Linked DNA regions of Homo sapiens: regions 2, 3 and 4 are each linked to region 1. Evidence: fine-mapped expression QTL. A gene starts in region 1. Each other region holds a variant in brackets. All regions are shown on one strand. Distances are from middle to middle. Region 1 holds the start of DISP2 (dispatched RND transporter family member 2). Region 2 overlaps KNSTRN (kinetochore localized astrin (SPAG5) binding protein). Region 3 holds the start of CHST14 (carbohydrate sulfotransferase 14). Region 4 overlaps PLCB2 (phospholipase C beta 2).

The links. PIP is the estimated chance that this variant, and not a neighbour inherited with it, causes the effect.
Region 2: its variant is the best candidate, but not a certain one, in a credible set for the expression of DISP2 in transverse colon (GTEx, PIP 0.89).
Region 3: its variant is the best candidate, but not a certain one, in a credible set for the expression of DISP2 in fibroblasts (GTEx, PIP 0.86).
Region 4: its variant is the best candidate, but not a certain one, in a credible set for the expression of DISP2 in subcutaneous fat (GTEx, PIP 0.84).

The regions. Positions count from the first base shown.
Region 1 is chr15:40,355,687-40,360,830 of GRCh38, reverse strand. It overlaps DISP2 (dispatched RND transporter family member 2), which reads right to left and starts at 2,612. Exons shown (of 8, transcript NM_033510.3): 1 at 2,391-2,612. The coding sequence starts at 2,509. PHGR1 (proline, histidine and glycine rich 1) reads right to left here. Exons shown (of 4, transcript NM_001145643.2): 4 at 4,397-4,758. The coding sequence ends at 4,528. LOC124903472 (a long non-coding RNA gene) reads left to right here. Exons shown (of 4, transcript XR_007064597.1): 4 at 1-925. RefSeq lists a silencer at 2,432-2,691.
Region 2 is chr15:40,387,144-40,392,287 of GRCh38, reverse strand. KNSTRN (kinetochore localized astrin (SPAG5) binding protein) reads right to left here. Exons shown (of 9, transcript NM_033286.4): 4 at 5,082-5,129; 5 at 2,677-2,782; 6 at 2,359-2,452; 7 at 734-795; 8 at 265-339. Among named protein-coding and RNA genes, the nearest start is that of KNSTRN, 7.0 kb to the right of the region's middle. The variant G/A (reference allele first, on the strand shown) is at 2,935.
Region 3 is chr15:40,467,814-40,472,957 of GRCh38, reverse strand. BAHD1 (bromo adjacent homology domain containing 1) reads right to left here. Exons shown (of 7, transcript NM_014952.5): 7 at 4,722-5,144. It overlaps CHST14 (carbohydrate sulfotransferase 14), which reads right to left and starts at 1,974. Exons shown (of 1, transcript NM_130468.4): 1 at 1-1,974. The coding sequence starts at 1,744. The coding sequence ends at 614. RefSeq lists enhancers at 207-1,110, 2,393-2,502 and silencers at 1,563-1,812, 1,863-2,102. The variant C/GTC (reference allele first, on the strand shown) is at 2,452.
Region 4 is chr15:40,296,133-40,301,276 of GRCh38, reverse strand. PLCB2 (phospholipase C beta 2) reads left to right here. Exons shown (of 32, transcript NM_004573.3): 8 at 2,049-2,149; 9 at 2,313-2,479; 10 at 2,569-2,715; 11 at 2,897-3,054; 12 at 3,318-3,400; 13 at 3,672-3,756; 14 at 4,369-4,531; 15 at 4,643-4,755; 16 at 4,885-4,981. Among named protein-coding and RNA genes, the nearest start is that of PLCB2, 9.2 kb to the left of the region's middle. The variant CTG/G (reference allele first, on the strand shown) is at 2,302.

The DNA.
Region 1 (5,144 bases):
GGCAGCCTGGGTGGAGGTGGGGGGCCTGTTCCAGCTGCCCATGGCCTTAGATAACTGATCACTGGGCTTGTCTTAGGAGCCAGGGCCCCACTTGGAGTGTTGGTTTCTTTTGCATTAGGGGAAGCCAGCATTCCAGAGGATACGGGAGAAGAGTGGGTGCACTCTTGGTTACCCAGTTTTCTAAAACCTCCCAAGTCCACCCTTTTCCTTAGCTGGCTCTTGTTCAAGGGGGATCTTAGCCTCCACCACTGGTTTGCTTCTGCTGGAGTCTCCCTGGCCCCAGCTCCTTCCCTTTAACTCCTACTATTCCTCTTCAGGGACCTAGGATCAGCTGCCCCCAATCTCACCCTTCCTGACTGTGCCCACCATTATCAATGTGGCAGAATTTGAAACCTTCCATATTCTGACTGCTGTAGAGCCAGGCCTTTTCTTCAAAACTCCCATGAGAAAAACCGACCTCCACTCTTCTCAGAATAAAAGCTTTCTCTTGTCACCTCCTGCTGCCCTCTGATCTCAGGAGGCTCAGTAAAATAGGAGTTAAGCACCCCAGGGCTACACAGGGGTTTTTTATTCTCACTCCCTCAGTTCCATGGCCCTCACTGGGATGAGTAACTTCCAGGGTTGCCTGCCCGGGCCTGCAGGCCTGTACGCCAAGTGAGTAGGGCAGGCAGGGGGATGGAAAGTGGGGATGCAGGCCTCATTTAAGAGGCCAGCATCCCAGCAATCAGGGCCTGGCTGACAGGCTCCTAGACACAGAGACCAAACCTGGAAGCCCCATAAGGGGCAAATGTATATCGCATTAACTATACCCCCAAGCCCACAGACACACAGCCAGGTGAACATCAGTGTGATCCCACAGAGTGGCCAGGACAGATGGGGAAGCAGCTCATATCACTAGGAAAATAAAAAGGTAATTTTAAAAACACAAAGTGTGAACTATTTCAAATTCCTCTCTAGCCAGTGTGTGTGCACATGCGCATGTTGTGTGTGTGAGTTATTCACTGTGTATCTATCCCCAGAGTGCTACTCAGGTCAGCAGGAGCATTTTTGTGTTTCTTGAATCACATAAGCAAGTCCCTATGCCCAATTAGTGTCTATGGTCTCTGGAGAAGTCCAGAGAGGGGCCAGAGGCCCCAGGGAGTTTCTGGAAGAGAGCAAGTGGATCCTGTGCCCAGGGGAAATGAGACTGGACATGGCTGATCCTTGGCAAGATATCTGAGACAGCAAATGACTCTCCTGCCCCTTCTAGGGATGCTTCTGGCCCCAGGTCCTCGCTCTGTCCTGTCACTGCCCCATCTTTGATCAGGCCATAGTCCCAGGCAGGTCCCTGGACTGGTGAATACACCCATCCTGTGTCTCACCTTCTTGAAGGCTTTGTGACTTTCAGACTGAAGAGTGGCTAAATCTATCCAGGCTAATGTGTTAACAATAAAGGGAAGAAAGCATTTCTCTCTACTTGTGGGGCTTTCTCCCCCTCTGGGGTACAGAATGTACATTTTAACTGGGGTATTCTGGAGACGATGTGTCCACTTCTGCTATTGCTATCAAGGAATGCCTTTTATTTCAGTCCAGGCAGGAAAGAGGCAGTGTCATGTCAGAGGAGGGATTCTGGGGGCGGCAGAGCCAGGCAGGGCACAGAAATTGCGCCATATTGCTACCTAGCTGGGCTGTTCCCTCACACATATGGTGGAGGAAGGGAGAAGAGAGGTGCTGAGATCTGGGCCCTCAGCAGGAAGGTGTCCCTCCTGTCCCACCAGTATGGGGCTCCTCCAGGGGTGGTACAGGCCAGCAGCCTGAGCACCAAATCCTTCCCATCTTAGCGGCTCCAGCCAGTGTGGCTGCCACATGCAGGGACTGGAACCCACACGTGCACAGCTGGGGGTCATGCAGGGCAGGCAAGCGACTGATGGTGACAAAGACAGTCCCTGACGTGCCTGCCGAATGTCTGCCTTCCCCAGGACACCCGCCTTGGCGAGCCTCCCATCCGCGATTCACGCACACCTTCATGCACACTGGCACGCTGAAACCCGGACTGAGGTTACTGCGGGCTTGGGGCTTCCGGAGAAGACGCAGGGGCAGGGCCTAGAAGGAGGGGCCGGAGGAGCCAGGGAGTCCTGGCCTGAGAGGAGGGGTAGGAGCCGTGGGTGGGGCAGGTTCCCTAAGCGGGGAGGGCGATGGGGGCTGACACTAGGGGGTGTCAGGGAGCGAGGAAATTGACCCGGCAGGATGAGGGCGTGGCGAGGGGGGCCTGGAGCTTGGCGACCCCGGGAAGGGGCTCCGGGAGGGTCTGGGGAATGAATGGGGCAACATATGGCGGCTACTGGGGATACCTGGGGCGGGGAGGGTCTGGGAGGGTCTGTGATACGGATCTGCGGAGCTGTCCGCCCTACCTGTCCGGGGAGCCGCCGTCTGGGGCCAAGGGCTCCCCCTCGGGCCGTTGCTCCCCTTCCGGACCCGGGCCGGGAGCCGGACCGCTGCCGCCGCTGCTGCTGCTGCTGTCACCGTCCATGCCCGTGGGCGGCACCGCTGTCCGGGCGCTGGTGCTGAAGCCGCGGCGGCGGCGGCGGCGGCGGCGGTGGCGGCGGCAGCGGCGGCGGGGTGCTCGTGCGCATGCGTAGGCTCTGAGCGGGCCGGTCGCTGGGCGGGGCGAGGAGGAGCCCAGCCAATGGGCGCGGCGCCGCTGCCGGAGCGGAGCGCTCTGTCTCTAAGATCCCGGGGCTGCGGATGTGAGCGCCCCTCTGCTCCCGCCAGGCCAGAGAGCCGCTGTTAGGAGTCCGGCCGTGCAACCCTTCCTAGCGGCCTCGGCCTTCCCGTAAGGAACCAGAGAGCGCGACACATGCAGAGATCCTCACAAATCAAAACGCAGACCCTTCCAGCCGGATAGAGGGCGAGCTCCACGCCCGCACTTCACCACGCTGGACGCCCCGGGTCGAGGCGGGCGGCTTCAGGCCTGCGAGGTTCCCGGCTCGCTCAGCGCCCTCCTCCCCTCCCCAGTGGGGCGAGGCATCAGGTTGGGTCTTTCTTCCCATCCTTCTGGACTTCGACTTGGACCTGGGTGTGCACCCCTTAGATGCGGAGCCCTGACTCCGTTACTCAAGTGCGCAGTCTGGTGAAGGAGGTGGGGGAAGAAGAGAGGCGCTCAGATCATCCCCAGCTCCTTCTCTTTCTTTTTTAAAATTTAAAAGGTTTATAAAGCAAACAAATCACAGTAAGCTAAGGTTAATTTTTGATTCAGGGGCACATGTGCAGGTTTGTTATAAGGGTATATTGAGTGATCCCAGATCCTTTTTTATAGTCACCGCTGCCCCCCCACCCCACCTCAGCCTGGGAGGTGCCCAATAGCCACTGACTCCAGGGCACTGGGAGGTGCCCAATAGCCACTGACTCCAGTGCCACCTCCCCCACCAGGGAGTAGCTGTGAGTAGAGCACATTTGGGTATGATGGACTGTGGACAGGCCTGGCTAAGGGGTCTAGAACTAGAATAGATATTGGCAGTGTGAGAAGCCTGGGGGGCTGGGAGTGGAGAGGATCCTGGATGTGGGATTTGACTAGGCAGAAAGGGTTTTACAGCAAGCAGGCTGTTCAGGGCCTGGTTACTTGTGCAGGGAGAGGCCTTGGTTGAAGACATGGGGCTGAGGAGAGAGTCAGGAACACTTGGACTATAGGTATCCCTAAAATGTGTGCCAATGCCAGTCCGTGTAAGACACAGGTCATAAGAAATGGGGTGGAAGAATCTAGAGGTGTAGAAGTGTTGGGTCTGCCCTGAATAGCTTATAGTTTGGTTGGAGAGATAAAGGGCCAGCCCATAAATTGCTGCCAATAGGCAAGATATGGTGAGGCCCATGAGGTGGTTGAGAAGGGGACAGTATGCAAAAAGGAAGGACCTCTTTCTTCCTAATAGGCCTTAGAGAAGGCTTCTTGGAGATGGTGGGGCTTCAGCTGGCTTGGAAGAAAGGGTGGGCTTTGAAATGTGGAGGTAGGAGAGAGGGAAGGCCTTCCTGACCTGGGGTGGGGGCATTCTTCCTTACCTGTGCAAACAAAGGTAAGGGGGCTGGAAAGTTCAGTGTATTTTAAGGGAATGGTGAGAAACCATCTGGATTGGAGGGAGGCTTCTGGTCTGTAGAGTGAGGCATGCAAGCTGCAACCTTGGAAGGCCCACCAGATCTGGATGTACAGGATGGCATAGAGGTAATGAGGCCACACTTGAAGTTCCTCGATGGGAGGGCACAGGAGTGAAAAGGAAAGGAGAGGTGACCTTACACAGCCATTTATAGTGAGCACCATGGCATTAAGCTTCTGAGAATGCCAGGATGGTTGCCCCATCTTCACAACTAGGGAGCTTGGAGACAACTGGGTCCTCTGACAGCCAGGTTGGATATGAAGGAAGACAGGCTCTTTAAAGAATAGAATGTGGCCTCTAGGAGGCTGTTTATTAGGAAGAGAAGATTGTGGTTTAGGCCTCATTCCAGGTCAGCTGGGCAATTCTCTCAGGCTTGCCATCTTGTGTCCTGTTTTCTTCTACTTCCTCAGTGATGTGGACCAGGGGGTGGGTGACCTGGGCCATGGCCAGGGGGAGGCCCGCAGGGCCCTGGACCATGGTGGGGGGGTGGCCCGCAGGGCCCTGGGCCATGGCCAGGGGGTGGCCCGCAGGGCCCTGGACCATGGTGGGGGGGTGGCCCGCAGGGCCCTGGGCCATGGCCAGGGGGTGGCCCGCAGTGACCTGGAGGATGGCCATGCCCCCCACAGTGGCAGTGCCCCTGTGGAAAGTCAAATGAACAATGTCAGAGTCAGAGGTCAGGGCTAAGCTTACCTGAGATCAGCTCTCCCTCACTCCACTTCCCTGGGGGACTCAGGATTTCTAGGCAAGTAAGGAGTTGCGGTGGAGGGCTGGGGGCATGGGTAGCATGTCCCGTGCCTTTTGCCTTGGTGAGGCCAGAACACTGAGCAGATAAAAGGCAAGCAACCTAGATTTATTGGTTTCTATTCTTTGAGCCAAGATATGACTCCCGCTCCCTGTACCTCGATTTATTTTATTTGCAACTAAGAAGCAGAATTATTTCATCTTCTCCTTTCTCTCACCCAGGAACCCTTGCAGAGTGATTAGAGGCTTTGCCATGCTAGGAACTGCAGGCTCATTGTACTT
Region 2 (5,144 bases), 31 kb before region 1:
ATGATCTGTGCAGCTAACCACCATGGCACACGTTTACCTGTGTAACAAGCCTACACACCCTGTACGTGTACCCCTGAACTTAAAAGTTGGAAAAAAAAAAACACGTTACTATCAGGGTAAATTTTCTGTATTATCTTTGTAACTTTCCTATAAATCTAAAATTATTTAGAAAGTTTATTAAAAATAAATAGAAAAACAGAAAAGACCCCACTATAAATCTACCTATCATGGTAGGAAATGGTCAGGGTGATGTCTGCCTCTCACCTGTAACTCCTCCATCTGCTTTTTGGCTGTTTCGTTAAAAAGCTTCAGCTCCTCTTGCAAAGTTTCTAACAGCAACTAAGAGGAAAGCACAATGTAGTAAACAAATCTTCATATAAAACCAGACTTGCATTAGATGATGGCTAACATCCTTTCCACACAGTTCTCAACAAAGGAGTCAGGAGAGAAATTTGATAAAGTATAGAACAGAAGAACGAGAAAGCTCTCTCTACAGGTTTACCTATTATGTGTTTTAAATTTTCAATTCAGACTCACTTATATTTGTAAGCACAAAGCTACCTTTCAAGTAAAATATGCTATTTTGAGTACACATCCCATTTCTCTTTTCTAGCATCACAGATAATCAAAGGCTGTTTCTTGGAGTTTATGGAATATATAGCAGAGACCTTCTTAGATTTACAGAGCCCCACAGTCACTCAGCCCTTGCGCCCTTTCACACCCATGCCCTCACCATAGAGTCCATGTGATCAGTAGTGGATTCTTGTCGTGATGCCAGGGTCTCACTGCCTAAAGCTGATGGATACAACAAAGTCAATCTCACTTAGGGAACTACACACCCTAAACAAAAGAAAATAAAAACCCTCCGTGGACAAGTACAGAAATATTCATGAGGGGAATTTCTCTTAAGTGTCTCATCCTGGACTTTCTCCTAAGTTTTCACCTTGGCAGGGTCACCCATATCTGCCCTGCAAAACTGTATTTTATCTCCTTTCAATCTAGGTTTTGATATGGCCAAAAATTCGGTATACTTTCTCCTTAGGTCAGTGGACAATTTGTCCAAAGGAAATGTATAGGTTGGATTTTTTTTGGTTTTGTTCACAATTCACAAAGCTATTTTTAAGAGCCTTTCAGGCCTTAAAAAATTATTACTTTCGGTAATATCACATGCATGTAATAAACTAAAATCATACAAAATATTTATGGTGTCGGATGTGGTGGTGCACACCTGTAGTCCCAGCTATTTGGGAGGATTGCTTGAGCCCAGGAGTTGGAGGCCAGCCTGGGCAACATAGCGAGATCCCATCTCAAAAAAATAAACAATTTTAAATTTAAAAACATATATATTTATGGTGACTATAAAGAATATCCTAGGCTGGGCATGGTAACTCATGTCTGTAAACCCAGCACTCTGGGAGGCCGAGACAGGCAGATCACTTGAGGTCAGGAGTTTGAGACCAGCCTGACCAACATGGCAAAACCCCATCTCTACTAAAAATACAAAAATTAGCTGGGTGTGGTGGTACACGCCTGTAATCCCAGCTACTCAGGAGGCTGAGGCAGGAGAATCACTTGAACCCAGGAGGAGGAGGTTTCAGTGAGCCGAAATCACACCTCTGCACTTCAGCTTGGGCAATGGAATGAGACTTCATCTCAAAAAAAAAAAAAGAATATCCTCAACTGTAACCTAAAGATTAACCAGTAACATTCAAAGTCAGTATTCCTTAATACAAAAAGGCCTGGGCCCCTTTCCTGGGCATTCTCTGGCTCTTTGACTCAGTCTGAGGCCCTCTTACAGTCTTTGGGCAATTCCTTCTTCTGCTCTCTTTGCTACAGATACTGCTTTCTGGGGGACAGGGTCAGAATAGTAGTCATATTTTAGTCACTGTAATTCTGATGATTAACCAGGTTTAAGAATGCTTGAAATAGTATTTTCTTTCTCTTCCCATTTGGGATTACTAGTATGCTTGAAAGGAAGAGCATGTTCAAACAAAATGTTCCTTTCAAGCACACTAGTAACTTTCCCAAATAGGAAGAGACAGAAAATGTTCTCCCTTGAAAGGAACAAAGTGTTTCTCATCTATTTGCAAGGTCATACCTGTTGGCACTAAATGAATGGCATAAAGTGTTCAGGTAAGAAAGAGATAACCCTCTCTCTATAATCATCTGAAATCCTATTGGCCAGGCAAAAATCAACATCACATGAAAACAAACAGAAGCTTTCCAAAATCTTTAGGGCTTTATGAAAGTAACCCCTGCACATACTGGGCCAGCTGATGCCATGCTGCCAAGATCAACCCCGGAAGGGGCACATGCACCAATTCCTTCAAAGGAGGCTAGCTGTGTGCTGTCTCTTACCTGGATCAAGGCCCTTGCTCTCCAAAATTGCCAAACAGTTGTCCCGAAACTTCTCCAGCAGCTCTACCTTCTGGGTCAGGTCCTTCAGCTCTCCCTATTGGAGCACAGCACAGACAGATCAGGAATTGTCCAACTCCCTAGGGGTGGTTGCCCTTTCTTGCCCTTGCTCTTGGACAGCCATAGCAAAAGCCTGGCTTTTTTTTTCTGCCCTTGGGCATCTGTGCATTAACAAGCTTGCTCATCCAAGGGGCCACCCATCAGGATTCCATGTGGATCGCCCAGTGGCAGCTGGTAACAGAGCTCTGGTGGGTCTCTTACCTGAGTTTCAGTCAACTTCTGGTGCAACTGCTTGTTGACGGCTTCTAACAGCTGGTTCTTGTCCTTGAGCTCTTCCTCTGATTTTTGCTTACTCAGTGGTTTGTAGCTGTAATAATAGTTGTACTTACATGAAAAGATAAAAGGGTTAACAGTATGGCCCACACCAGGTGCGGTAGCTCATGCCTGTAATCCCAGCACTTTGGGAGGCTGAGGCAGGCAGATCACCTGAGGTCGGGAAATCAAGACCAGCCTGACCAA[G/A]ATAAGAGAAACCCTGTCTCTACTAAAATTACAAAAGATTAGTCAGGCGTGGTGGCGCATGCCTGTAATCCCAGGTATTTGGGAGGCTGAGGCAGGATAATCGCTTGAACCCAGGAGGCGGAGGTTGTGGTGAGCTGAGATTGCGCCATTGCACTCCAGCCTGGGTGGCAACAAGAGCAAAACTCCGTCTAAAAAAAAAAGAAAGAAAAATACGGCCTACAGAGTTACACAAACACGTCCCATTCTATCCTGGCTATTACACAGTGGTATATGACCTTCAGTGAGTTGCATAACCTCCCTGAGGCCTTGTTTCCTCATTTTTGAAATCAGGACAATACCCACATCTCATAGTATTATTATTATGAGTAATAAGAGAGAAAACACGTGTGCATTTCTTAGCCCAGTAGCTGGGCTATTATCTAATGTTAGTTTATCATCTAATAAACTCTAATATCACCAATTGTTGGGAGCAGGCCCCCCAAATCTGGCCATAAACTGGCCCCAAAACTGGCCATAAACAAAATCTCTGCAGCACTGTAACATGTTCATAAAGGCCCTAATGCCCATGCTGGAAGGTTGTGGGTTTACGGGAATGAGGGCTAGGAACACCTGGCCTGCCAAGGGCGGAAAACCACTTAAAGGCATTTTTTTTTTTTTTTGAGATGGAGTCTCGCTCCGTCGCCCAGGCTGGAGTGCAGTGGCGTGGTCTCGGCTCACTGCAAGCTCCACCTCCTGGGTTCACACCATTCTCCTGCCCCAGCCTCCCGAGTAGCTGGGACTACAGGCACCCGCCACCATGCCTGGCTAATTTTTTGTATTTTTAGTAGAGACGGTGAAACACCATAGTTAACCAGGATGGTCTCCTGACCTTGAGATCCACCCGCCTCGGCCTCCCAAAATCCTGGGATTACAGGCGTGAGCCACTGCGCCGGCCCTTAAAGGCATTCTTAAGCCACAAACAATAGCATGAGCAATCTGTGTCTTAAGAGCGTGTTCCTGCTGCAGTTAACTAGCCCAACCTATTCCTTTAATTCAGCCCATCCATTTCCCATAAGGGATACTTTTAGTTAATTTACTATCTATAGAAACAATGCTAATGACTGGTTTGCTGTTAATAAATACGTGGGCAAATCTCTGTTCGGGGCTCTCAGCTCTGAAGGCTGTGAGACCCCTGATTTCCCACTTCACACCTCTATATTTCTGTGTGTGTGTCTTTAATTCCTCTAGCGCCGCTGGGTTAGGGTCTCCCCGACCAAGCTGGTCTCAGCAACCAATATTAGAGTTTTTTCTTAAAGTTCTCAGTCTTTTTTGCTAGTATTTTGTCTTCAAAACTTTTTTATTTTTGTAAGTCAGAGTCTTGCTCTGTCACCCAGGCTGGAATGCAATGACGTGATCTTGGCTCACTGCAATCTCTGCCTCCCGGGATGAAGTGATCCTCCTGCCTCAGCCTCCTGAGTAGCTGGGATTACAGACATGCGCCACCATGCCTGGCTAATTTTTGTATTTTTAGTAGAGATGGGGTCCCATCATGTTTCCCAGGCTAGACTCGAACTCCTGACCTCAGGTGATCCACCCACCTTGGCCTCCCAAAGTGTTGCGATTACAGGTGTGAGCTGGTGTGCCCTGCTGTCTTCAAAACTTTTAAGATATGCCCAAATAATAGATCTGGAACTAAAACCTATTTGTACAGACTTTTCAGCTTATTATTTCTATTTCTGATAGTGCAAAACTTCCAAACTAGCCTCAAAGATGAGACATGAATCCTTCTCCAGGTTTTCACCACCACCACCACCAGAATCTTCATCTCGAGATCACTAACTACATACACCCAGCCCTTCCTCTCCTGAAGGCTTTACCCTCCTGTTGATGGGCCATAGCTAAGTGTGATTTCCAATCAGCAGTGGTCCTGGCGTGGAGTCCAAAAAGCTCTTGCTTGAGACACAAGATAGTAGCACCAGTGATTCTTGCACTGACAATGGTTCTTACACCTAGCTGTGCCTCACCCCTGAAAATTCCACTCAGGTTCCTGAGGTGGAACCCAGACCCTAACACAGTAAACAAGTCCCACAAATGATTCTGATGCAGAACCAAGGATTGAGATCCACTACCCTAGAATAGTGGCCAAGTTGATTTACCCTGATGCTCACCCTTTTCTGACATTCCTTCTGGTGGCAGTGTCAGTAGCTTTCATTTGCCTAGGAGGGCAGAAA
Region 3 (5,144 bases), 110 kb before region 1:
CTGGGCACAGAGGGTCTTTGGGTGCCTGCAGAGCTGGGTCCTGGAGCTACCAGGCAAGAACCCTGCTTCCGTTTTCCTTTCCTTGGAAAAATGTAAAGAACTGGCAGGTGTAGGAAATTTTGAGACTGGAGCAGAAAGGCACAAAAGTCATTTATAAGGTATGATTGCTCACTCTAGTCCTGAGGCACATGGGGTGGATAAATGGGGGATCAGAGCCACAGGGTCCCTGGCTCTGGTCATGCTTGCCCCTGGCTGGTACCATCTCTGAGTTTGGCCACAGGTTAAATTAAGGTAGACCAAGTGGACTGCATAATCCTGGCAGCCCGGGGTCTGGAGCCAGTCTTTAGATCAGATGTGTTGCTTCATTGGCAAACTGGTGTCTGCCCCCCAAGAGATCCCCCCAATGAGGAGCAGCAGGTCTCCTGCCTAGCCCTGTCCTCTGAGTCACTGTGGGTGCCCACCCTGGACAAGGAACTTCTGAGGGCAGTCTCTGCCATCCAGGATCCTGAGAAGCCCCAAGCCCCAGAGCCAGAGTTTCTCCGAATGACAGGCAGAAGCACAGAAAGCTGGCGTTGAAACCAGTCCCCACCAGCTGCTGGCCCCACACCCATGGTCACTGCTGACACGCCTCCTTGGTGACATTAGGCAGTGGGTAGGCAAAGAGGGAGAAGTCCAGGATATACTTAGGCAGCACATCCTGCAGCAGGGCCCGGGGGGCACTGCACAAGTGGTAATGCAGGCTTTCGGGGCTGGCTGGCCGGTACCAGGCCTGGCGAGCTGGAAATCGGACGTGAGGTGGTGCCCGTACCCACTCCAGCACCTGATTTGCATCAGCCTCCAGCCTCTCATAGGAGCCCACAAAGTCATAGTGCACGGCACAAGGCTGGCACAGGTGGTACACGGGCATCCAATGCTCATTCATGCGCTCAGGGTCCTCATCCACCAGGTATCTCAGGAACTCGGGGAATGTGACATCGTCGCCTGCAGGGCTGGGCCCCGCTCCAGCCCTGTACCGCCTCACTATCTCAGCCCCATAGCGTTGCTGGTACTCTCGGATCTCGCCAAACTTGTTGCGGTAGGCAGAGAGGAGGCGTTCCAAGGGCTCCCGCACAAACAGGAACTTAAAGTAGTGCTGCAGGCGGTAGCGAATCTCCTCAGGCCGCAGGTCGGCCAGGAACACCAGGTCACTGCGGTGGTCCATCTTGAGGCGGACGTCCACGCTGTCCAGGACGCCTGCCAGCACCTTCATCACCCGCTTCCAGTTAGAGCAGGCCACCTTGGGGACGTAGCAGTAGAGGAAGCGGTAACGGTCACTTACGAGGATGTGGCGCAGCAGGGTGCGCCGCTGCCCCACCGGCAAGTCCCAGGGGTCCCGGGGCATGCCTGGCTGTCCGCACACCGCCCGCAGGGTCCTGTTCCGGACGTCCTGCCGCACTTGCAAGTCCGCGTCCCCAGCCCTGAGGGACAGGCCCCCAGGCTTGGGGGCTTTCCCGCGCCAGGCTGTGCCCTCGCGGCCGGGCGGGTGCAGGGGCAGGGGCTTCATCTCGGCCAGGATGCCCCGCTCGATCATGAGCAGCAGCCCGCTGGAGGCCACGATCACCGCAAACATCAGCATGGACGGCAGCAGCAGGGGCGGCCCACCCAGCCCCGCCCGGGCCCTGCCCAGAGGGGCCCGCCTCAGCGCCCGGCCCAGGGGCTCGGCGCCATTTGGGGCCGCCAGCGGGGTCAGCGGGCGGGGGAACATGGTGCTCAAGGGGTGGGGGCCTGCGCGGGCCCGGCCGATCCGAGGGCGGCCTGGAAGGCGGGCTCGGGCTGGGGGCGGGAGGAGGGTCTGGGACCGGGGGTAGTTGGGGAGGGGAGGGCAGGGGACAGCCCTGGCGCGTGTAGGGGTGGCCGGCTCCCGGGCTGCGGCGCCGAAGCGGGCGGCGGGCGGCGGGCGCGGCGAGGGACCCGGGCCGGATGTCCCGCCCGGCCGCTCTCCACCCCCGGCCTCGCAGTGACACAGGCGCGGGGGCGGGCCCACGCCGGGGGCGGGGAGAGGGGCGGGCGCCCCTGCGGGGCGCGGGCTTGGGAGGGCGCACGCGGACCCCTACCCGGAAGAGGGCGCCTGAGTCAGGGCCACCCCTGTCCTCTGGGCTTGGGGACAAAAGCTCCTGAGACCTCGAAGGCAGAAAAGACTCGAGGCTGCTCTCCTGCAGCGTGTGTCCTCAGGGAAGTGGACAAGGGGGATTCGCCACAAACTCAGGCCTGTCCTAGCCCTTCCTCCAGCAACGGGTCTGGAGGCAGGGAGGCGGGCAGCGCTCTCTCCGAGTCCAGACGTGCCGGAGGCTGGTCTTTCCAGCTGGAAGCGGAGCCCTCGGTGTGCTCCCCCTTGCCACCCTTAACTCCCTCCGTCCTGCAGGTCGTGGCCACTCCAGGAAGGAGAAGCAGAACTGTCAGACACTGACCAGT[C/GTC]TCCATGGTGACCCTTGTGTTTAGCAATACCTGGGGACTGACTACAGTGCTTGTCCACTGGGTAATGCTGAAATGTCTGGAAATGGAGTCTCCCCTCCTCTGCCTTCTCCTCATGAGGCAGTGGGATAACTGGGCACTCTGGGGAGGGTCTGACACATTGGTCCATCAGCTGCTGGTGTGGCCAACACACATTTGGAAGGGTGAGGAGCTGGGGGCACAAAACAGCAGGGAAACAGCACGTAGTCTCCTTGCCTGGAGCTAGATGTGTGCTCCATGGCACCAGGCTGGTCACTTGGGCGGACAGCAGACCCGAAGTGCTTTGGATGTCAGCAACCACCATTTCCCACTGGGAACCTGGCTCAGTAGCCAGACTTGGTCCAGCTATGTGCTTGCTGCCTGCAGAGAGCCAGCAAGCCTCTGAAGCAGCAGAGGAATATGATTAGAGCCCAAGTGTACTGAGGACAGCGCCCACTAAGTGTTTTATATTCATTATCTCCTTTAGTTGTTACAGCCACCCTGGCAGGGAGCTAGTGTGGACATTCCCTTTGTACAGCTGAAGTAACAGAGGCTCAGGGAAGATGTGACTCAGTATGGGTGGTTCTGAGTCTAAAACCTAAATTTCTAATCACGGCCCTTCAGAGATTAAAGGAGCATATCATGGAATGGCTAGAAGGGAGGAAGCAGCTGACTCGAGGGCGGACTGTACAGAGCAGGTGATGGAAAATAGAAGATACCAGTGGGAGAATGGAGCTACCAGTGATCAGATGAATTCAGAAGGGTGAGGGGACTTGAGGGATGAGGTGATACTAGAGGGCTCACTGATGACCCCACAATCCCAGCAACAGGAAAAGCACACAGATGAGCCAGGGGAAGGAACGGTAAAGCCTTGCAGCCTTCCAGCTCTCCAGGGCAGGCTCTCCACATCTGATTGCCCCAGTGCATCTGCAGGCTACCACCTGTCCATTTGCTGCACCAGAAGTTTGCGTGAAGGTTCTGCCTTGTCTACACTGCTCCTTGCTTCCAATAATCCTAAAGGTATACATTTCTGGTGATAGGATTTTCTATTAAAATCATATTTTCCAGTAAGTATGTCCTTTAAACCAGGAGAGGAAAAAAAGGCCTTAGACCTTTAAAAATCTTTTGATAATGTGGCCACATGTGCTCCCTTCTGTGTTACAGGGTAGTTTTCTGTGTTAGCAGTCAGGGTGAGGCAGGGGGAGTCCTTGGGCCTGGTACTTATCTCCATACCAATTTCTTGTCTGTAAGATAAGGACAAGCTACCACTCGCCTCAAGGGAGTCTTGTGGACACCACACTGAAGGCAGAGCTAGAAAAATCCATGGTGGTGTCTGTGCCACCAATAAATTCTGAAAAAATGTTCCTGCCCACATGCACCATGCCTTAGCAAAATGCAGAAGTGGAGGCGGGGCGGGGGGGTGCTGTGGCTCCCAGGAACCTCTATGGCCTTAGAGCTGCCCCACCTGGAACATGGTCAACACTGAGGCTTCCAGGCTGGGACCAGGGCTGGGCTGAAGCAGGGGTCAGCTGGCCGCAGACCCTTGGCCCCATGATGTGGCCTTCCTCAGCAAGCAAGAAGCACCAGCTGCAAGACACTGAGGCCCTAGGACAGTGCTGGCCAGTTACCCAAGGTGATGAGGAGGGATGCTTTTTTTTTCTTTTCTGAGACAGGATCTCACTCTGTCACCCAGGCTGCAGTGGTATGATCACGGCTCACTGCAGCCTCGTGCTCTTGGGATCAAGCAATCCTCCTACCTTAGCCTCCTGACTGAGACTATAGGCATGCACTGACATGCCGGGCTAATTTTTAAATTTTTCGAGAGACATGGTCTATGTTGCCTAGGCTGGTCTTAAACTCCTAGGCTCAAGTAACCCTCCTGCCTCTGCCTCCCAAAGCACTGGGATTACAGGCAGGAGCCACTGCATGAGGCCAGTGATAAGAAGGTATCTTTGCCATGTACCTACTTGGGGACCAATTTCCAGGTCACTGGTCAGGTGAGGGCTGGCAACTGAAGTATTTCACACAGACCTAAGCAGGCAGCTGTGGCCACCATGAAATCAAGAAGTCAACTCCAAGTTCCCAGTCCCTCTGTCTCCTTCCCTCACTCTCTTTTCCCTCTGCTTCCCTGCCCTCTTTGCTCATTGGCCTTGGTGAGCATCCATGCCACAGGGGTTAAGAGGGACCTCTGAAATAAGAATAGTGGGTCTCTCCACACCCACACACCAAAAGATGACAGGACACACAGGAAACGATCCTTTTCTAAATCAATACAATTTCTCAAATTTATTTTTTTCTTAAAGAAGTACTTCTAATCTCTGTCAAAAGGGAGGTGAGGAAAGGTCCTTCCTCCCTTGTAAACACTGAAATACAGATCTGGGAAACCAGGATCAACACACACAAAAAGTGCATTTTACAAAATATCAACTAAAATATATTTTACATGGATTATGCTTCCATTGAAATTCTACCAGCTGCATTTTCAGGTTCGAAAAAATATTTCCACATCTAAGAGATTTCAAAAGCATTTAAGTTCGGGGCAGCCAAGACCCTACCTCCTGGGAGGAGGGCCTTCATCTCCTTTCCTGCTAGGTGAGGCTGGGCTCCTTGGCAGCAAGGGCCCAGAATGAGCAGGCTCCAAGGCTGGCTCTGCAGAGCCCCCACTGCCACTCTGCCAA
Region 4 (5,144 bases), 60 kb after region 1:
CCAGCCTATACCCCATGGAGTATTTTCTCCTGGTAAGAATTTGGAACGTTATAAATAAATAAAACCACGACCCCCATTGATCACCTGCCCACATGAATCCCAGGAGGAGCATTTACCCCACAGCCACAGCTCTGCAGAGTTGGTGACTCCTTGATGCAGTCAGTCACAGGGATCCAAATGTGGCGTTGGGGAGAGGTAGGAATGGGCTCCTGCGGCTCCCCTACAGCCAGCAACACTTACCTGTGGTCAGCACACATCCACCCTCCCTCTCTCCTGCTGCCTGAGCTCCTCCCTTGGCTAAGTCCTCCTTATCTATCTGCTTTCCTTGTGTCTCAGTAGAGGCTACTGACCCAACTTTGCTTGGAGCTGAAGCTCCAGAGACAGGGAGGGGTTTGGGGAGATCCAGTTAGACTCTCCTGCTCAGACCCTCTGCTCCAAACTAAGACTGATGTTGGCCTTCCAGTGTGATTCTGAAAGACATTTAATGTTTTTTTTGGGGGGGGAAGGAATGCAAAGGTGCAGAATCCCTGAATACCACAAATGTACTTTTCATTTCTATTTCTATAGATTTGCCTATTCTGGTGGTAAAGTAAATGAAATCATAAATATATGCTTTTCGATGTCAGGCTGTATTCATTTCTCATAATGTTTTCAAGGTTTATCCATGTTGTAGCATGCATGAGTACTTCATTCCTTTTTACCACCTAATAATATTCCATTGTATGGATATACCACATTTTGTTCATCTGTTTATCAGTTGGTAGATGTTTGGGTTTTTTGTACTTTTTGGTTATGAATATTCATGTACATGATTTTGTGTGAACATGTGTAAATTCTCTTGGGTATATACCCAGGGGTGGAATTGTTGGGTCATGTGGTCACTCTATATTTAACAATTTGAGAAACCGCCAAACTGTTTTCTAAAGTGAGAGCATTGTGTAGGGATTTATTTATTTATTTTTGAGACAGAGTCTCACTCTGTTGCCCGGGCTGGAGTGCAGTGGCGTGATCTCAGTTCACTGCAACCTCTGCCTCCCAGGTTCAAGCAATTCTCCTGCCTCAGCCTCCCAAGTAGCTGGGATTACAAGCATGTGCCACCATGCTGGGCTAATTTTTGTATTTTTAGTAGAGATGGGGTTTCACCATGTTGGCCAGGCTGGTCTCGAACTCCTGACCTCAGGTGATCCACCCTCCTCGGCCTCCCAAAGTGCTGTGTGGGGTTTTAGGTTAGTCACATCCCGCTGACACTTGTGATTGTCTGTTTTTTGTTTTAGCCATCCTAGTGGGAGTGGTATCTCATTGTGGTTTTGATTTGCATGTCTCTAACTACAAATTATATTGAGCACCTTTTCTGTGTTTATTAGTCACTTATATATCTTCTTTGGAGAAATACCTGTCCAAATCCATTGTCCATCTTTCAACTGGGTTGTCTTTTTGTTGACTTATCTCTTATCGGATATCTGATTTGCAAATATTTTATCCCATTCTGTGGGTTACCTTTTCACTTTCTTGATGGTGTCCTTTGAAGCACAAAAGTTTTTAATTTTGATGACGTTTAATTTATCTTTCTTTGTCCCGGTGCTTTTGGTGTCTCCAAATATTATTGTTGAATTGTCCTCCTTTCAATTCTATCAGTTTTTGTTTTATATATTATGGGGTTCTGTTGTTAGGTGCATATATGTTTATATTCAAATTGCTTCTTTTTGAATATTTGTCCTCCACTTAAAAAAGATAGCCTACTAGCCTGGCAAGCAGCATCATTTCTTCTGACCTCTTTTCTACCTCATTCTGGTTATTCTTAGTTCCGATCCTGCCCCAGCCAATGGAATAGCCACTGTACAAAATCAGGGTCAGAGCAAACCAGCTAAGCATGCTCTCTGCTCAGCAACCAGGGCCTTGAGAAGTGGATGCTTGGGTGTCCTTGAAGTTCTTCTGTCTGCCTTGAGCCCGCCTTCTGACCAGGTCCCCTTGACCAGGGCTGGGCCGAGTTTGTGGTTCTTAGCTCTGAGAAGGTGAGGGCAGGGGCAATAAGGTTACTATGCCCCTAGAATGACGCCATCAATCCTGAGGACTTCCCAGAACCTGTCTACAAGAGTTTCCTCATGAGCCTCTGTCCTCGGCCAGAAATAGATGAGATCTTCACTTCTTAGTGAGTTTCTTGGGTTGTGCTGGTCATGGGAAAAGGGTGGTGGCTAACAATCCCCTCCTCCCACCTGCCATGCCGGGAGTCAGGAGGCTTCACTGGACAAGGGGGTTGTCTAAGCCTCCAGGCCCAAGGGATATGGACCTGTGCTCTTCTCT[CTG/G]GCTTGAAGCCATGCTAAGGCCAAACCCTACATGACGAAGGAGCACCTGACCAAATTCATCAACCAGAAACAGCGGGACTCCCGGCTTAACTCCCTGCTGTTCCCGCCAGCACGGCCTGACCAGGTGCAGGGCCTCATCGACAAGTATGAGCCCAGTGGCATCAATGCACAGAGGGGTGAGGACTAAGGGAACCCCTTGTCCCCTGTGGTCCTGTCCTGCCTTGGCAGCGGGGTTGTAGCCTGACAGCTATCTCCTGTCCCCCAGGCCAGCTGTCACCTGAAGGCATGGTCTGGTTTCTCTGTGGGCCAGAGAACAGCGTGCTGGCCCAGGACAAGCTGCTGCTCCACCACGACATGACGCAGCCACTCAATCATTACTTCATCAACTCGTCCCACAACACCTACCTGACAGGTGGGCCCTGATAACATTGGTGCCAACCTCTGCTTTCACAGGGGTTCCCTGCATCCTCCACAGGGGTTGCCCACATGCTGCTGGCCCTGAGAATAACACAGACCATGATGGAGTGGCGGTAGGGGGAGAGCTGGGCTGCCTTTGGGTGATGCCCTCACCTCTTCCCCATCCTCTGGCTCAGCCGGCCAGTTCTCAGGCCTCTCCTCGGCTGAGATGTACCGCCAGGTGCTGCTCTCTGGCTGCCGTTGCGTGGAGCTAGACTGCTGGAAGGGGAAACCCCCTGACGAGGAGCCCATTATCACCCATGGCTTCACCATGACCACAGACATCTTCTTCAAAGTGAGACCCTGGGCACAGAGGCTGGTGGCCGTGGCAGTAGGGAAGGGCTCTGGGCCAGAAGCTTTGAGGGGTTGGAGGGCTGAAGCTAGAGAAGATGAATGGCTGGAAGGCCTCAGACCATTGGGGACCAGCAGGGATTGGGGGCCAATGGCGGCCATGCAGTTATATGTGTGTATTGAAACTAGGCAGGGGGGAAAAGTGCTATCACGAGACAGGCAGTCGGAACGCTGACCTTCTGTTCATGGAGTCTCCTTCTCCTCCAGGAAGCAATTGAGGCTATTGCAGAAAGCGCCTTTAAGACCTCCCCCTATCCCATCATCCTGTCGTTTGAGAACCATGTGGACTCGTGCGTATCCAGGCCCATTCAGCCACATTCTCACCCAGCCCCCAGTCTCCTGTCTGCAACTGTCCTCCCCACAACTGCCCCAGCCTCTAACCATTGCCTACAGCTTCTCCCACGTCTCAGTATAATCACCCTAAGGCCTCATGTTCTCCTGCTCGAGTCCCAGCCTCCCTGACCTCCTGGCCCCTGATCTGGGTCATCAAGGGCACAAAAGGATGCATAATAGGGTTGGTGCTGAGCGGCTGAACCCCATCCCCGCTTTTGCTCCCCGCAGACCCCGCCAGCAGGCTAAGATGGCTGAGTATTGCCGGACGATCTTTGGGGATATGCTGCTCACAGAGCCCCTGGAAAAGTTCCCAGTGAGTGGGCTTCGCTGTGGGACATTTGAGCCTTGGGCCTGGGAACCTGGGGCAGGGTGAGAACCAGGTTAGGGAGGGAGACACTCCCAGAGGATGCTAGGGTTCACTTGGTTAGATGCGGGTCTGGGATCCTGTCACCTTCCGTGTGTCAGGCACTGGGCTGGGCTTCAGGGTATGCTAGTGACAAAGACACAGTCACTGCCCTCAGGTGTATTACCCTCTAGTGAGGAGACAGACAAGTAACCAGGCCATTACAATCCAGTGGTTGTTATGGGAGCACCTGGGGAGTTCTGATCTGGTCTTGGGGATCAGGGAAGGCTTCCTGGAGGAAGTGATGGACAGGGCTCCTAGAGTAGCCTGTTAGGTCCTCCTGGTGCAGATGGCCTTGGGCCAGGGTCCCATACTCAGGGACAGCTACAACAAGCACAAGATGAGCCGCATTTACTCCAAGGGATAAGCTGGATTTATCTCAGTGAGAATGGGGATGATAAGCAGTAGTGAGAGGCAGGTCAAGAGGAGTGGGGGAGGCCGAGGGAGCATGCCTGGTAATAAGGAGCTCAGGCTATGCCATGAAGGTGAGAAGATGGTGCTGACCTGCTCTCCACTCCATAGCTAAAACCAGGTGTCCCCCTGCCCAGCCCTGAGGATCTCAGGGGCAAGATCCTCATCAAGAACAAGAAGAACCAGTTTTCTGGCCCCACCTCCTCCAGTAAGGATACTGGTGGGGAGGCTGAGGGCAGCAGCCCACCCAGTGCCCCTGCAGGTGAGGGCACAGGTGAGTCGGGGAGGACTATGGTGGGGGGTATTAGGAGCATCTGGAACAGGAGAGGGGCTGGACCTGGAGGAGCCATGCAGGAGCCAGTGCCGACAGAGCTGTATGTGGCAGTGTGGGCTGGCGAGGAAGGGACTGAGCTGGAGGAGGAGGAGGTGGAAGAGGAAGAGGAGGAGGAGTCAGGAAACCTGGATGAAGAAGAGATTAAGAAGATGCAGTCGGATGAGGTGTGTGGGGGTAGCCCCAGGCCCCTCTGTGTCATCCTCCACCGTTAAGCCCCCTGGATGGGGGCCTTGGGCCCCATTCCTGGGCTCTGCACCATCCTCCTCTTCTTTGCCCTCCCCTCTTCTCCTTAGGGCACAGCGGGCCTGGAAGTGACGGCTTATGAGGAGATGTCCAGCCTAGTCAATTACATCCAGCCCACCAAGTTCGTCTCCTTTGAGTTCTCTGCCCGTAAGTTAGCATGAGTAACTTACGGGTGGGTAAGAAGAAGGGGGATCTCCCCCTTCCTTGGACTTGGGGCCCTGCCTATAAATATCCAGCCACGGAGTCAGGCAAAGGGCTTGCTTAAGTGGCAGTGGCTCCCAGTTTCTCTAGTGAGGAACTTGGCACCAAA